Homo sapiens: one gene and its partner. The protein of the gene in region 2 purifies or fractionates together with the protein of the main gene of each other region. This does not show direct contact. Each region holds a gene or a part of one and is shown on either strand. Other genes may lie near its edges.

Evidence for each region. Proteins that work in one complex are often made in the same cells at the same time.
Region 1: the proteins of RRP15 (region 2) and RRP1B purify together in Homo sapiens (co-immunoprecipitation; one large-scale study listed by IntAct). This does not show direct contact.

What each region holds. Positions count from the first base shown.
Region 1 is NC_000021.9:43,690,560-43,693,569, forward strand, and holds part of RRP1B (ribosomal RNA processing protein 1 homolog B), read left to right. Parts: intron 1-879; coding exon 880-943; intron 944-2,630; coding exon 2,631-2,824; 3' UTR 2,825-3,010. UniProt on the Homo sapiens protein: Positively regulates DNA damage-induced apoptosis by acting as a transcriptional coactivator of proapoptotic target genes of the transcriptional activator E2F1.
Region 2 is NC_000001.11:218,291,608-218,295,458, reverse strand, and holds part of RRP15 (RRP15-like protein), read right to left. Parts: intron 1-3,851.

The DNA of each region.
Region 1 (3,010 bases), on a different chromosome or scaffold from region 2:
CAGTGGACAGGTTCCACGGCCAGGGTAGCATAAGGTCTGAGTGGTCTGGGACCCACCCTGAGGGATCACAGTCAGGAAGGGGACTTTGAGGGGCGGTTGATCCACACATTCTGCCTCCCAGGGCTTCCGGCTCAGGGTTTGCAGAAACCAGTTTTCTCTCGTGAAATGTCACAGTGTTAAACACAAGTGGTGCAAGTCAGCAGTAGGAGGTCCACACAGAAATGTGGGTCAGAGCAGGAACTTGAGGCAGTGCTTCCTGATGCAGGCTGGATCCACTTCCAGGAATGTAAGTAGGAAAGAAGATAGTTGATTGTGGTGAACTGTTGGGATATGCAGATAGCTCAGAGTCCTTGTGCACAAAAAGCTGGAAACTGTGTGTCCATTGTCCATTGCAGTGAGATTCCATCATAGGCATCGTCTCATCGATGTCATAGAGTCTTCAAGTTAGAAGTTCAGAACTCTCCAGCAAAAGGCAGGGGAGTCTTGGCATTTTTCCTCACGGGTTCTCAGTGGTGAACTGTTTTTAGGACAGTTCAGGCATCCTCTCTGTTTGCCTTTCTTCCCTGGATCGTAGAACCCTGCAGCGGTAATGAGGCAGTGACCGCAGATGGGCCAAGAGTGTGGGCACCACTGACCCTGGGCTGGGGGGTTGCGTGTGTGGGACGCTGGGAAGGACAAAGGGCGGTCCTGGTGAAGCCCCGACAGGAGGGTCGGTTTCAGTCTTGGCCGCAGTCCCTTTGGCCTCTCCCTATATGTGCCACTCAGTAAGCAGCAGTGTGGGCGGCATACCCTCCAGGGCAGGTTCTCCAGAAAAATCTGACTAAGCGCCTCCACTGCACTTGCGTCACTCCTTTTGTTCCTGTTATTTCTCTTCTGCAGCTAAACAAGACACCATCCAGCTCCAAGAAAGTCACCTTTGGGCTGAACAGAAACATGACTGCCGGTAAGTGGGGTTTTGCCAGCGGCAAGCTTCTCTGGAGCACAGCTGCAGCTCCTGGCGCGGCTCGCAGCCTGGTTCCACAAGGCGGTCGGGGAAGAGGGGGGTCCTAGCTCCTCACTGCCCATTTCTTTATTTTTATTTTTTTTTTTTTTTTGAGACAGAGTCTCGCTGCTCTGTCACCCAGGCTGCAGTGCAGTGGCGAGATCTTGGCTCACTGCAACCTCCGCCCCCCCAGGTTCAAGCGATTCTCCTGCCTCAGGCTGCCGGGTAGCGGGTAGCTGGGATCACAGGTGCACGCCATCACATCCAGCTAATTTTTGTATTTTTAGTAAAGATGGAGTTTCACCATGTCAGCCAGGCTGGTCTCAAACTCCTGACCTCAGGTGATCTGCCTGCCTCGGCCTCCCAAAGATCTGGGATTACAAGCGTGAGCCACCGAGCCCGGCCCCTCACTGCCCATTTCTGAGTCAGAAGGAAGCACCTATGTGTCTGTCCCTCATCCTCAAAGGGCTGTGAGTGGGGTGCCAGTGGTGAGTGGGCAGCCAATTGCCTGGGACCTGTTAAGAGAAGCTACCTGGTGAGACGTGATCCAAAAAGCCGTTTTCCCAAGTGTCTTTCTAAATACTGAAAGCCGTCCCATAGAGAGGCCATTTGAGATCGTAGTGCTCCATCAGCTGTAGCTGTCTCTCTGCGAAACTTCGGAACCACTTGCTTCTTGGGCGACAGAGAAGGGTAACCCCTATCTTCCTACTTTTCATATTGGTGCCATCCATTCGAGTTGCTTTTACAAAGGAAACCAAAGTTTTAAAAAGTAGTATAGGCCAGGCGCGGTGGCTCATGCCTGTAATCCCAACACTTTGGGAGGCCAAGGTGGGCAGATCATGAGGTCAGGAGTTCGAGACCAGCCTGGCCAACATGGTAAAACCCCGTCTCTACTAAAAATACAAAAATTACCTGGGCGTAGTGGCAAGCACCTGTAGTCTCAGCTGCTCGAGAGGCTGAGGCAGGAGAATTGCTTGAACCCAGGAGATGGAGGTTGCAGTGAGCCAAGATCGTTTCACTGCACTCCAGCCTGGGTGACAGGCTGGGTGAGACTCCATCTCAAAAAAAAAAAAAAAGTATTATAACGAATTTAGGACCTGACTCTTGTTGGGAACTGCAAGTAATAGAGAGTATGTGTATGTGTGAGTGTGTGTACATGCACCAGTATATATGTGTGTGTGCGTGTGCATGCACACATGCGTGAGTGTGTATGTTTAGGGAGAAGAGACTCTGAGAGACTGAGGAGCTCACCCAGCCTTTACAACTGGAGAAAATGAACAGTACGAATCCTGCAGCTCCACATAGCACAGATTTGTCCCAGACACAAATGCCTGGTTCACTCATTGTCCAAAACACCCCCACCCCCAATGTTCACCCTTCCAGGAGCCACCCTACCAGCAGCTCCCCTTAGTCTGTGCAGGCAGCCCTGGGCCCTCCCTTGGGAGGGTGAGTTGAGGCATGGGATGTGGCCTCACTGCCCTCCTTTCCTCAGAAGGCTCTTGGGCCTGCTCTCTGCAGGGCCTTGAGATGGCCCTGCTTCGTCCTAGCAAGTGGGTGGGGTCGGCACCCAGGCAGGACGCTGTCTAAGGTGTTGAAGGGACAGCTGTCGGACCCACTTAATATGGGGCCTTGCTCTCATTTGGGACAGAATTCAAGAAGACAGACAAGAGTATCTTGGTCAGTCCCACGGGCCCTTCTCGAGTGGCCTTCGACCCTGAACAGAAGCCCCTCCACGGGGTGCTGAAGACCCCCACCAGCTCACCTGCCAGCTCACCCCTGGTGGCCAAGAAGCCCCTGACCACCACACCAAGGAGAAGGCCCAGGGCTATGGATTTCTTCTGAGGAGCAGCAGAGTCCCTTGTAAAAGACTGCTTTTGTACAGAATGCGCTATAAATTATACCTTTAAGAATGTGGGGCCTTTTTTATGATTTTGTAAGTTCCCATAAGTTGTGTGCACGAGGTTCTGAGAGTGCCCGCAGGCTGCTGCGTCCTGGCCCCTCTGTAGTGGCTGCGGGCGTCTTGGTTGA
Region 2 (3,851 bases):
AAAACCTGAAATGATATTCCTTATTGTTTTATAGTCATATGGGCACATTCTATGAGGGAGGAGTCAATCAGATCACAGCCCCGAGTAACAATCAAGGCTTCTTTTTTTTAACCTGGGTTGATTTACAGACAACAGACGCTTCCCCCGCACCCTGTCCCAAGACTACAATCTTAAGAACCTAGTTAGAGTTGCATCTTAACTTCCATAAATCTGAGTAGCTCAAGGATAACTCAGAGGTAGGGGCTATCATCTTACCCTTTATCATACTTGATATCATCAACCACTGTTATTTTTTCACCTGAGGTGATTTACTGACTAGGAAGACTGTTTTTCTGTTTTGGGGTTTTTATTGTTTTAAGACTACAAGCTTAAGAACCGAGTATATATTGTATCTAAACTTCCAACAAGGTATCAAGTCAATAAATTTGAGTAGTTCAGGGATAACTCAGGTAGGGCCATCACCTTCCCCTCTATAACACTTGTCATTTATATATTACTTAAAATGCAGACTGTAGCACTTTACCTTCTGTGATACTGTGAAATATCTATTTGGTCAACTCCTAAAATCCTTGGAATCTCCAAAGGAGTATCTTCTTGTATGCTAATGATTGAGGGCTGGTAGCCCCAAGGCAGCTTCAGGATCAGGGCTGGTCACCAGATGCACCAAGACAGGAATAGAAGTTTGGGACTTTCAGCTCCATTCCCCAACCTCTGGGAAGGGAGGGAAGCTGAAAGTTAAATGAGTCACCTCGATGATTTAATCAACCATGCTTATGTAATGAAGTCTCCATAAAACATTAAAAAAAAAACAGGGTTCAGAGAGCTTCTGGATAGCCGAACTCCTGGAGGTTCCTGCAGGACGGCACACCCAGGGAGGGCATGGAAGCTCCACACACCTTCACCCTATACTTCACCCTATGCATCTGTTCATCTGTATCCTCTGTAATATGCTTTATAATAAACCCATAAACTTAAGTGTCTCCCTGAGTTCTGTGAGTTGCTCTAGAAAATTAATCGAACCCAAAGGGAAGATTATGGGAACCCCAATTTTAAGTCAGTTGGTCAGAAGTTCCAGAGGTCTGGATTTAGGACTGGTATCTGAAGGGTTTGGGCAGTCTTATGAAGCTGAGCCCTCAGTCTGTGGGGTCTGACACTACCTCCAGGTAGATAATGTTGAAATGAATTGGAGAGCAAACAGGTGGTATCCACTGCAGAATTGATTACTTGCTTAGGGTGTGAGAATGAATCCATACACATTTAATCACAGAAGTCTTCTGTGATGATTGTTGCTGTTGAGTGGCTGAGTGAGAAAATAGAGAAAAGCACACTGAGTGGTGTTTTTTCCACATTCACCGGCTGTATATCTCTAATTCGTGATCCCCTTCAATTTTATTATGATCAAATTTCAAATCGTACTGACAGTACTGCAATTCACCAAAAATTCAATCTTAGTCATTTTGCTATTATTCAAGTTGATATATATAACTGCTAATTTCACCTCCATGATAATCTAGTATATGAGAAAAGAGTATTAAAAAAATCATGTTAAGAGAAATTTCCAATTTATTCAGTGAATAAATGGATATCAAGTACTACACCATGAATCAGGCTCTATGTCAAACTGAGATATAGCTGTCCTCACAGTAACAAGGTCTCTGTCCCCATGGAACTTAGGAAACTTCTGCAGTCTAACAAACAATACTTGAGTTTTGAGTTTTGTTCTCATGAAAGCACACTCTTCTACTTTTCTTATACAATATGTGAAAAGAAATTAAAGCCAGAAAAATAAAATTCAAACAACATATGGGTTATATCTGGGTTTTCTATGAAACTCAAGTAGCGTCTTACTAAAGGAAGTTTTTCAAATGTCGATATAGGGCACATCCCTATCAATTTTTATAATCCAGTTAAAATTCAAAGATAAGTGCCTGATTCAGTTTCCTGATAAAACAAGTCAGTACTCTTTAAATATATCTGTAATTTACACACTGATTCCTCATAGGTCTGAAGACTCTGCCTTTATAGTTTCTCAGTACTATCATATAAAAGTTTTTGATAACTTAATAGTTTAACCAAGACCACATGTATACAACTACCTGACTAGAAAATCCACCTCCATGGGTCACCTTTACAGAAATACTTAATTTCATGAGCGGAAAACAGCAATTTCTTATATTAAATAGCAAATTCTGAGTTAAGCCAAAGAAGAATTGTCCCATCTTTAACCAACAGACCTATATTACTAACTGTATTAAATAAAGGACTCTTTAACCAGGCATGGTGGTGTGCACCTATGGTCCCAATTATTAAAAGGCTGAGGCAGGAGGATTGCTTGAGCATGGGAATTGGAGGTTACAGTGAGCTATGATCATGCCACACTGCACACCAGCATGGGCAACATACCAAGACCCTGTCTCAAAAAAAAAAAAATAAGAAAAAAAAGTTTTAAAATAATAAGTAAAATATATGATCCTTTATTATTTATCTATATTGCAGAGATAGGAAAATTTGTAAAAGACAAAGTGGAGGAGACATTTAAGTTGAAACCTAAAGGATAGAGAAAAGCTGGTTAAGAGAAAGTAAAGAATAAAAAGAGTATGCCAATAGAGTACCATAAGCACGACTAGAAAGACAGAGAGCAGACTGTATTCCAGAAACTAGTTCAGAATGCTATGACCCTAGTCGTCTAGGGAATGACAAGATGTGAGCCTGAGAGGCAAGCAGTGGTCAGATCACACAGGTTGGGTATGCAGACTGTTGCCAGTTTACAAGGAGATTCAGTCAGTCAATCACTGTTATTTGTGGATTCTGTATTTGAGAATTCACTAACTCAGTAAAATGTATTCGTAACCCCAAATCAATACTCATGGCACTTTTGCAGTCATTCACAGACATGCTTAGAGCAGTGAAGGGTTGGAGTCTCCCTACATGCACACTCCTAGCTGAGGCTGAAGGAGACACTCTGCCTTGTTTTAACTTTCTCATTGTAAACTGGTGTTCTTCCTACAGCTATTTAGTGCCACATTTTTTCCATTTCTGTGCTTTTTCTTGGCTACAGCAATGTTTAAAATGGCCCACAAGCATAATGCTGACGGGTTGTGCAGTGTCCCTAAGCACAAGGATGCAATGTGCCTCTCAGAGAAAATATGTGTTGAATAAGCTTTTTTCAGGCACGTTATTGGCCATCCATGAGTTCAAATGTTAATGAATCAACAAAGTATATTAAATATAACTATTATTATCCACTTCCTCTAACAGTACAGTATGCCCAAAATGTATGGTGCTATGAGTTTGCATTAAAGTTTGTTGTTTGAAAAATTGAAGGCTGGGTGCAGTGGCTCATGCCTGTAATCCCAACACTTCGGGAGGCCGAGGCAGGAGGATCACTTGACCCCAGGAGTTTGGGAACAGCCTGGGCAACAGAGTGAGACCCATCTTTACAAAAAATGAAAAATTAGCTGGACATGATGGCACGCACTTGTGGTCCTAGCTACTTTGGAGGCTGAAGTGGGAGAACTGCTTGAGCCTGGGAGGTTAAGACTGCAGAGAGCTCTGATTATGCCACTGCACTCCAGCCTAGGCAACAGACCAAGACTTTGTCTTAAAAAAAAAGGGGGTGGGGAGTGGGGGGCCAGCCGCGGTGGCTCACGCCTGTAATCCCAACACTTTGGGAGACCAAGGTGGGTGTATCATGAGGTCAAGAGATCCAGACTATCCTGGCCAACATGTTGAAACCCCGTCTCTACTAAAAATACAAAAATTAGCCGGGCGTGGTGGCACGTGCCTGTAGTACCAGCTACTCGGAAGGCTGAGGCAGAAGAATTGCTTGAACCTGGGAGGCGGAGGTTGTG